Regions from separate parts of the Homo sapiens genome. Here region 2 is linked to region 1. The links come from fine-mapping of genetic effects on gene expression. A gene starts in region 1. The other region holds a variant in brackets. All regions are shown on one strand. Distances are from middle to middle. Region 1 holds the start of NDRG3 (NDRG family member 3). Region 2 overlaps NDRG3 (NDRG family member 3).

Region 1 (5,378 bases):
AGATGGCGCCACTGTACTCCAGCCTGGGCAACAGAGCGAGACTCCGTCTCAAAAAACAAACAAAAACAAACAAAAAACAAACAAAAAACAAAAGCAGCTCAATCGTGAGTGCACGTTCAAGTAACATAAACAAGCTTTTTTTTTTTTTTTTTTTTTGAGACGGAGCTCTGTTGCCCAGGCTGGAGTGCAGTGGCGCGATCTCGGCTCACTGCAAGCTCCAGCTCCCGGGTTCACGCCATTCTCCTGCCTCAGCCTCCCGAGTAGCTGGGACTACAGGCGCCCACCACCACACGCGGCTAATTTTCTGTTATTTTTTAGTACAGACGGGGTTTCCCCGTATTAGCCAGGATGGTCTCCATCTCCCGAACTCGTGATCCACCCACCTCGGCCTCCCAAAGTGCTGGGATTACAGGCGTGAGCCGCAGCGCCCGGTCCATAAACAGGCTTTTTGATGCAAGACTCTTATCTGCAAGTTTTCAAAAACAACAGGGTGGATGGAGGCCTTTGAGTGGTAAATGGTGATGACAAGTTTAATCTGAAGGAAGAGACAAGCAAAGAGAAACTGAAGGGCAGGAAGGAGGAACAGAAGGGCACCAGAAGAACACCACGCTTTGAGTAATGAAAAGGGGGGGTGGAAATTAACTGAGTCCTTACCAAGGATCTACTGTGAGCCAGGCATCTGGAGCTGCAAAGATGGACCATGCCCTCAAGGGGCTAGAAGTCCGCAGGGTAAGACTGAGGCTAAGACCCTGTTTTGTGAACGTGTAATTCTAATTGGGAAAATCAAGCAGGGAAGGCTTCACAGAGAAGGTGGTGATTTAGTGGAGCCTTTGAAATGTGGAGGAGGATTTGCTAAGGGAGAAAAACGACAGTTTGAGCTAGTTATTTTGGGGGAGAAACATTCACATATTTTTATAGCTGTTCATTTGGAACTTTAAATCATGGGAGGCTTCTTAAATTCAGCACCACTCTATCAATGTTCTCTTTCTCTTCTTGCTTTATCTTAAATACTGAAATGTTCAAGCCCAACCTTGGGGCAAAGGCAGAAAGCCTCGGACAGAAAGCCCCGGAATGAGGTGAGTGCTAGCCAAATCTGCTCTGTCACCTCCAAGTCCAGCCCGCCCAGCTAGCCCAGTCAGCCCAGTCCTGCTCTCTTGGCAGGAAAGGAAGGCTAATAATATCCCCTGAGGGCCAGGGTAAGGGGGGGGGGGGGCGCGGCGGGGGTGATCTGGATGCCAGCAGGCAAGGATCACTCTTGTTCTGTCAGTAAGCCACCAAAGGAAAGCTTCCCTGCTTCCTAATCCACGGGGCTCCTAGTCTACCTGTGATAGGGAGGCCAGCTCTGCAGGAAGAAAAAAAGGGCTTCATGACAAGGAAGGGGGAAGCATTTGGATTGGGAAGTGCAGAGGTGGTTATGCGAGGTTATCTTAATAAAATGCTTAGCAAGATCCCTGGCACACAGCGAGCGGTGGAAGAACGTTAGCTCTTATATTAATAACACTATTATTATTACAGTAACACCTCAATTGTACTCCGACAACAAGAAAATCTTTTTTGTGCAGCCTACTTTTACGACGTTCGAGAGCAACTTCAGAGATGACAAGTGATTTCAAAATTTTTTCAAAGGTACGAGATCAAATTCCAACCGCACTGGCCTGAGAGCCCGAGACCCTGAGTTGAGAGCTGACCCTGCCACTTGTCAGCTGCGTGACCTTGGGCATGGCACTTCACCTTTCCGTGCCTCAGTTTCCTCGGCTGTTAAGTGGGGCTAAGAAGCCTCTCCCCGGTAGGGTAGTCGTAGGGTCCCGTTAGAGGATGCCCTCTGCTGCTCTGGGGCCGGACGGGTGCAAGGGCTGCTCACGGCCCCTCTTCCAAGCATCTGGGCTCTTGGAGCGGGCGAGGTAGATGGATGAGCAACCCCAAGGCCCACCAAGCTCTGCCGCCTGCAGAGCCAGAGCGAGAGAAGGGTTCGCGCCTGCGGGGGGCGTCCCTGTGACCCAGGGTGTTGAGCCCGGAGGGAGGCTCTCTTGCTACCCACACGCTGTCGCCGGCGGGCTGGGCGCGGGGAGCGGCCGAGGAAAGCCGGGCTGACCTGGGTCCGGCGGGCGGGCGGGGCGGGGCAGAGGGCCCCGGGGGCACGGGGGAGGCAAGCAGCACGGGCCACCAGGGCCTCGCCGTGCCGCGGAGATGATGCGGGGAAGGAGCAGGGCAAAGGAGCGACGCCCCCGAATGCGGCGCCGCGCGCCCCCCGCGGGCCGGGCGGAGGCGCTCACTCACCTGAGGCGCGGGCACCCGCCGTCAGTGCAGCAGCAGCGGCGGCGGCGGCGGCGGCGGCGGCGGCGGCGGCGGCGGCGAGAGGGGCGGGGGAGGTGCTGCGGTCCGCGCAGGCGCGCCGAGGACGCCAGGGCGGCGCATGAGTGCTGTGCCCGTCCACCTCGGGAACTACCGAGAAGATGGTGGCTGAGCCAGGAGAGGCCGGCGGCGCCATCTTTGATGTAGTTTTTCTTGCTGCGGAGTTTCCTCAGAGAAGAATCTCAGATTTTGGAGGCGCTGGGCGGCAGGGCCATTGAGCTCTGCGTCTGGAGCGCTTCCCTCAGTTCCCTGAGTCGCATCCTTATGAAGCCCCTAAGAGCTCTTGCAGGGTATGGCATCCTCCTTTTAAGGTGACCTAGAGCCATACCCAAGGTCACAGGGCGCCTAGCACAGTGCTCGGCACGTGGAAAGAGCTTAGTAAATTTTTGGTGAATGAACATAGTAATTTAAGAACTAGAGTCCAAGACTCAGGGCTCCGAATTACCAGTCCTCCATTGTATCACCCCTATTACAACCGTCAGCCAAATCATCTACTTTCTTGAATGCAACATTAGAGATGGAATTTTTTTTCCCAGAATGATTGCAGATATTAAACTTAATGACCCAACAATTTAACACCAAAATGTACAGGACACACTCTTCCTCTATTTATTATCTATTATTTCTTTACCATTAAGTACCACTGACTAAAAGTTTTTTTGTTTTGTTTTGTTTTGTTTTTTGAGACGGAGTCTCACTCTGTCGCCAGGCTGGAGTGCACTAGCGCGATCTCGGCTCACTGCAACCTCTGCCTCCTGGGTTCAAGCGATTCTCCTGCCTCAGCCTCCCGAGTAGCTGGCACTGTAGGCGTGTGCCACCGGGCCTGGCTAATTTTTCTATTATTAGTAGAGACGGGTTTTCACCGTGTTGGCCAGGATGGTCTCGATCTCTTGACCTCGTCATCTGCCCGCCTCGGCCTCCCAAAGTGCTGGGATTACAGGTGTGTGAGCCACCACGCCCTTTTAACCCGAGCCAGTGTCGCCATCTCGGCTCAGGTTCCCAAGTCCCTCAGCCTCCCAAGTAGCTGGGACTAGAGGCGGGCGCCACCATGCCTGGGTAATTTTTGTATTTTTTTTTTTTTAGTAGAGATGGGGTTTCACCATGTTGGCCAAGCTGGTCTCAAACTCCTGACCTCAAGCAATCCGCCTGCTTCTGCGTCCCAAAGTGCTGGGATTACAGGTGTGAGCCACCACGCCCGGCCACTAAAAGCATATTCTTTTAATTAAGGCAAACTGAACAAATGAATATTACCAAACATCTCAGAGGGCAGCAATAATATTGTTATTCATCAAGCACAATTCTTGAACTGAATTTAGTTGGAAGGAAAACTAACATTAATTGAGCACAGCCATTTATTTTATGGTTTATGTTCGTTAACATTTACTGAATTCAAATTAGTTCTAGTTCACCATCCACTATTTATCCCTATGTCCTTGGTTAGACAATTAAGTCTCTCCACACCTCTCCATGCCCGAATTCCTCATCTATGTCACACACCCAGAAATAGAAGTTACAAGGTTGTGGCAAAGACTGAATGATAATATGCATGTAAAATGCTTAGAGCTCAGTAAGTATTATTTTTCTTTGTTCTATCGTATTTTACTGTTGAAGACACAAAACATACTTCTTGAGTTTGAAGAAATCCTTATAAGCAAAAAATGCAATACAATGTAATAAATAAAAAGGGGGAGGGTATAATCATCTTTAGAGAGATAATCTGTCCCCATTTTACAGATGAGGAAATTGAGGATAAAATGAAAATTCATGGCCGGGCGCAGTGGCTCACGCCTGTAATCCCAGAACTTTGGGAGGCTGAGGCGGGCAGATCATGAGGTCAGGAAATCGAGACCATCCTGGCTAACAAGGTGAAACCCCGTCTCTACTAAAAATACAAAAATTAGCTGGGCGTAGTGGCGGGTGCCTGTAATCCCAGCTACTCGGGAGGCTGAGGCAGGAGAATGGTGTGAACCCGGGAGGCAGAGCTTGCAGTGAGCCGAGATTGCGCTGCTGCACTCCAGCTTGGGCAACAGAGCGAGACTCCGTCTCAAAAAAAAAAAAGAAAAAGGAAAATTCACTCCAACTCTCTCCATTGTACTACTTTGTTTATGAAAGAGTAGGCAATTAAGAGCATTTCTCTGATTCTTGAGATACAGATAGAGATAGATATAGACGAGGGTCTCACCATGTTGCTCAGGCTGGTCTAGAACTCTTGGACTCAAGCAATCCTCCTGCCTAGGCCTCCCAAAGTTCTGGGATTATAGGCATGAGCCACTGTGTCCCGCTCTGCTCTGATTCTTAAATGTTGGATTTCCATGAGACCATCCAAACTTTCCCTTCTTGCTCTACTGTGGACTATATCATTCATTCTCAAGTCATCAAGAACTAGACATCAGCAACTCTCAAATGTTATTTCCAGTCTCGATTTCTCCACCCAGTTCTCCACCTGTGTTATTTGACAGACCAGTTGATTTCTCCATTTGGTATTCCAAATAGAACGAGCTTTCCCATCTCAAATTGCTCCATCATCTACCCACTGTTCAGGCTTCACCTCCTGCAGCATACTGATACCGCTAAACTTTTATATTATTTAATTCTTACAGCATCCCTGTGATATAGGTTCTATAATTCTCTCAACCTTCGAGATAAGAGATTAAATAAATTTTTCAGTCACAGTTAATAAATGGCAGAGTTAGGGGTTTTTTCTTTTTGAGACAGAGTCTTGCTCTGTCATCCAGACTGGAATGCAGTGGCACAATCTCGGCTCACTACAACTTTCACCCCCTCCCGGGTTCCAGCAATTCTCCCACCTCAGCCTCCTGAGTAGTTGGGATTACAGGCACCTGCCATCATGCTTGGCTAATTTTTGTATTTTTGTAGAGATGGGGTTTCACCATGTTGGCCAGGCTGGTCCTGACCTCAGGTGACCCACCCACCTCAGCCTCCCAAAGTGCTGGGATTACAGGCATGAGCCACCATGCCTGGCTAGAGTTAGGTTTTTAACACCTAGGTTACATGCCTATGTTCTA
Region 2 (5,378 bases), 50 kb before region 1:
GGAAAACAAGCTCAGGGCTCCAACAGATTCTACATTATGGTGAGTTGCACGATTATTTCATTATATATTACAATGTAATAATAGAAAGTGCACAATAAATGTAATGTGCTTGAATCATCCCAAAACCATCCCAAATACATGGAAAAATTGTCTTCCACAAAACCGATCACTGGTGCCAGAAAGGTTAAGGACCACTGATATACTGTATTCTTACAATAAAGTAAGCTAAAGAAAAGAAAATGTTAAGAAAATCGTAAGGCAGAGAAAATATATTTACTATTCATTAAGTGGAAGTGGATCATCATAAAGGTCTTCATCCTTGTTATCTTGTTGAGTAGGCTGAGGACGAGGAGGAACAGGAGGGGTTGGTCTTGCCATCTCAAGGGTGGCAAAGAAGGAAGAGGTGGAGGAGGTGAAAGGGGAGGCAGGGGAGGCAGGCACACTTGATGTAACTTTACAGAAATACATGGTAATTTGTCTGACTTTTTACACTCTCATTTTTCTAAAAATGTTTCTATACAGTACCAATCCTTCTTCCACTGTTTACTTTAGTTAAAGTGTGCGTATCACAGAATAGTTCCTGACATAAAAGAAGTGAAAAACAGTCTTGAATAACTGGAACCCTTCTGCCAGGCTGTCTAATGTCAATTTGTTTTCTGGCACTGCTTCTTCTACATATTCCTCATTGCCTGGCACTGGTTCAGAAGCATTCATCTCCATCAAGTTGTCTTCTGCTAATTACTCTGGTGTGGTGTCTACTAGCTCTTAAATTTCTCCAAAATCCATACCTTGAAACCCTTCATCCTATGACCCACCTTTTTTTGGTCATATTCATAATCTCTGTAATGATCCTTCATTGGCTCTGTTGTAAATCCTGTGAAGTCATATACAACATCTCTACACAGTTTTCTCCAGCAGAAATTTATTGTTTTCAGCTTCATGGCTTTCAAGGCCTTTTATTTATTTATTTATTTATTTATTTTTTGAGACAGGGTCTCATTCTGTCACCCAGGCTGGAGTACAGTAGCGTGATCTCAACTCACTGCATTCTCCACCTCTCAGGCTCAAGCAATTCTCCCACCTCAGCCTCTCAAGTAGCTGGGACCATAGATGCATGCCACCATGCTCGGCTAATTTTTGTACTGTTTGTAGCATCAAGGTTTCACCATATTGCCCAGTGTTGCAGGAAGTCAGGGACCCCAAACAGAGGGACCTGCTGAAGCCGTGATAGAAGAACATAAATTGTGAAGATTTCATGGACATTTGTTAGTTCTCCAAATTAATACTTTTACAATTTCTTATGCCAGTCTTTACTGCAATCTCTGAACATAAATTGTGAAGATTTCATGGACATTTATCACTTCCCCAATCAATACTCATAATTTCCTATGCCTGTCCTTACTTTAATCTCTTAATGCTGTCATCTTCGTAAGCTGAGGATGTATGTCGCCTCAGGACCCTGTGATGATTGCGTTAACTGCACAAATTGTTCGTAGAGCATGTGTGTTTGAACAATATGAAATCTGGGCACCTTGAAAAAAGAACTGGATAACAGTGATGTTCAAGGGAACAAGGGAGATAACCATTAGGTCTGACTGCCTGGGAGCTGGGCAGGACAGAGCCATATTTCTCTTATTGCCAAAAACAGGTAAGAGCAATATCGCTGAATTCTTTCCCCAGTAAGGAATATTAATAATTAACAGCCCTGGGAAAAGAACGCATTCCTGGGGGGACGGAGGGGGATCTCTAAAATGGCCGCTGTGGGAGTGTCTGCCTTATGCAGTTGTAGATAGGGATGAAACACGTCCTGGTCTCCTGCAGCGCCCCCAGGCTTGCTAGGATTAGGAAATTCCAGCCTGGCAAATTCTAGTCAGACCAGTTCTCTGCTCTTGAACCCTGTTAAGATGTTTATCAATGACAATGCATGCACAGCGGGACATGGAACTTCATCAACAATTCTAGTTTCGCCCTGGCCTTGTGACCTTGCCCTACCCTTGTGACCTTGCCCTATCCATTTGCCTTGTGATATTTTATTGCCCTTGAAGCATGTGATCTCTGTGACCCACACCCTATTCGTATACTCCCTCCCCTTTGAAAATCGCTAATAAAAACTTGCTGGTTTTACGGCTCAGGGGGCATCATGGAACCTGCCGACATGTGATGTCTCCCCCCGGACACCCAGCTTTAAAATTTATCTCTTTTGTACTCTTTCCCTTTATTTCTCAGACCAGCCAACACTTAGGGAAAATAGAAAAGAACCTACACTGAAATATTGGGGGATTCCCCCGATAGCCCAGGCTGGCCTTCAACTTTGTTTTTTTTTGAGATGGAGTTTCACTCTTGTTGCCCAGGCTGGAATGCAATGGTGTGATCTCGGCTCACTGCAACCTCTGCCTCCCCAGTTCAAGTGATTCTCCTGCCTCAGCCTCCCAAGTAGCTGGGATTACAGGTGTGCATCCCCACACCTGGCTAATTTTGTATTTTTAATAGAGATGGGGTTTCACCATGTTGGTTGGGCTGGTCTCAAACTCTAACCTCAGGTGATCCACCCACCTTGGCCTCCCAAAGTGCTGGGATTACAGGCGTGAGTCACTGTGCCTGGCTAGCCTTGAACTTCTAAGCTCAAGCAATCTGCTTGCCTTGGCCTCCCAAAGTGCTGGGATTGCAAGTGTGAGCCACCGCGTGTGGCCTCTGGCTTTTTCTTTCTTTTTTTTCTTTTTTTGAGACGGAGTCTTGTTCTGTCACCAGGCTGGAGTGCAGTGGCACAATCTTGGCTCACTGAAATCCCCACCTCCCGGGTTCAAGTGATTCCCCTGCCTCAGCCTCCCAAGTAGCTGGACTACAGACGCGCGCCACCATGCCTAGCTAATTTTTTGTATTTTAGTAGAGATGGGGTTTCACCATGTTGGCCAGGATGGTCTCGATCCCCTGACCTCGTGATCCGCCCACCTCGGCCTTCCAAAGTGCTGGGATTACAGGCGTGAGCCACCACGCCCGGCCGCCTCTGGCCTTTTCTATAACAACAATGGCATCTTCAATGATGTAATCCTTCCGGACTTTTATGATGTTCCATCTATTGGGATTCTCTTCCACAGCATTGACAATCTGTTCCATAAAGTACCATGTATAATGAA[A/C]CTTAAAGGTCCTTATGACCCCCTGATCTAGAGGCAGAATCAGAAATACTGTGTTTGAGGGCAAGTAGAACACTTAGACACCTTCAGTATTTAACTCAATACTGAAGTTCTGGGGTTCTGGGTGGCCAGGGGCATTGTCCATATCAAAAGAACTTTGAAAGGCAGCCTCTCACTGGCAAGGTATTTTGTGACTTCAGAGACAAAGCGTAGATGGAACCAATCCAGAAAAAGTGTTCTCATTATCTAGGCCTTCTTGCTGTACAATCAAAACACTGGCAGCTGGTGTTTTTTGTTTCCCTTCAAAGCTTAGGGGTTTGCAAGTTTAAAGATAGGGCAGTCCTGATCATAAACCTGGCCGCATTTACACAAAACAGAGTTAGCCCATCCCTTCATGCCTTAAATTCTGGTGCTCATTTCTCTTCCTTACTAATATGTCCTTTGTGGCAGGTTTTTTCCCCCCCAAGAATAGGGCACTTTTGTCTGCATTAAAATCTGTTCAGGGCCGGGCGCAGTGGCTCACACCTGTAATCCCAGCACTTTGGGAGGCTGAGGCTGGTGGATCACCTGAGGTCAGGAGTTTGAGACCAGCCTGGCCAGTATGGCGAAACCCCATCTCTACTAAAAAATACAAAAATTAGCCAGGCGTGGTGGCGGGTGCCTATAATCCCAGCTACTTGGGAGGTTGAGGCAGAAGAATCGCTTGCACCCGGGAGGCGGAGGTTGCAGTGGGCCAAGACCGTGCCATCGCACTCCAGCCTGGGCAACAAAAGCAAAACTCTGTCTCAAAAAAAAAAAAAAAAGATTTAATACTGCATCTTTACATTTGTTTACATTTCTCTCAACCATGAATGGTGCCATGTATGATCTATAAGTGTGTGCATAAATTTTAACTTTTTGTAATAGATTTGTGTATATTTTATGTTAGTAAATGATAAAATAGACTAATGTCTACATATAGTTTATACAATCATGACATACCTTTTTCCGAATGTTTCCAATAGTTCTAGGTTACATAATTTGCGAGTTTTTTTCTTTTTTCTTTTTTTTTTTTTTTTTTTTGAGACAGAGTCTTGCTCTGTCACCCAGGCTGGAATGCAGTGGCCCGATCTCAGCTCACTGCAACTTCCACTTCCTGGGTTCAAGTGATTTTCCTGCCTTGGCCTCCTGAGTAGCTGGGACTACAGGCACACGCCACCACACCTGGCTGATTTTTTGTATTTTTAGTAGAGATACCATTTCAACATGTTGGCCAGGCTGGTCTCAAACTCCTGAACTCAGGTGACCTGGCTGCCTTGGCCTCCCAAAGTGCTGGGATTATAGGCATGAGCCATCCTGCCCCGCTGTGGGTTTTTTCATATTGCTACAAATCTCCGGAAGCTTTCTGACTGTGTGTGGTGGCTCATGCCTGTAATCCCAGCACTTTGGGAGGCTGGGGTAGGAGGACTGCTCGAGCCCAGGAGTTTGAGACCAGCCTGGGCAACATGGTGAGACCCTGTCTCTACAAAAAATTTTTAAAAAATAGCCAGGCCTGGTGGTGCATGCCTGTGGTCCCAGTTACTTGGAGGCTGAGGTAGGAAAATCACTTGAGCTACAGTAAGCCATGTTCTTGCCACTGCACTCCAGCCTGGGTGACAGAGCAAGACCCTTTCTTAAAAAAAAAAAAATCCAATTTATGTATTGAAAAAAAAGCCATGTATAAGTGAACCTATACAGTTCAAACCTGTGTTGGTCAAGGGTGTAAACATCACAACCTTCTCTATAATGTCAAAAAAACTGGAAACAGCCCAAATATTCATCAATGGGGAAATTAATAAATGAATTACGATTTATTCATATAATGACATACAGATAAAAATGAACTAGAATTATTAGCATTAATACACACAGAAAATCTTCAAAAAAATGTAAAAGAGCAAGATGCAAAAGGATATATATTAAAAATATACCACTTATGCCAATATTTTAAAAAGCAACACTATAGATTCTGTTTATTTATATATATGTATACATACATATACGTACACATATATATTTAGAGACAGGATCTCATTCTAGTGCCCAGGCTAGAGTGCAGTGATGTGATCATAGCTCACTGCAGCATAGAACTCCTGGGCTCAAGCAATCCTCTCACCTCAGCCTCCCAAGTAGCTAGGACTACAGGCGCATACTGCTACACCTGGCTAATTTTTATTTTTTAGATTTCTTGGAGAGACGGGGTCTCCATATTTGCCCAGGCTGGTCTTG

What was found. PIP is the estimated chance that this variant, and not a neighbour inherited with it, causes the effect.
Region 2: its variant is the best candidate, but not a certain one, in a credible set for the expression of NDRG3 in sun-exposed skin (GTEx, PIP 0.51).

The regions. Positions count from the first base shown.
Region 1 is chr20:36,743,768-36,749,145 of GRCh38, forward strand. NDRG3 (NDRG family member 3) reads right to left here and starts at 2,323. Exons shown (of 16, transcript NM_032013.4): 1 at 2,278-2,323. RefSeq lists enhancers at 1,786-2,752, 2,477-2,576 and silencers at 1,947-2,136, 2,167-2,366.
Region 2 is chr20:36,693,791-36,699,168 of GRCh38, forward strand. The region is part of intron 3 of NDRG3 (NDRG family member 3); the gene reads right to left. Among named protein-coding and RNA genes, the nearest start is that of NDRG3, 50 kb to the right of the region's middle. RefSeq lists an enhancer at 2,724-3,224. The variant A/C (reference allele first, on the strand shown) is at 3,135.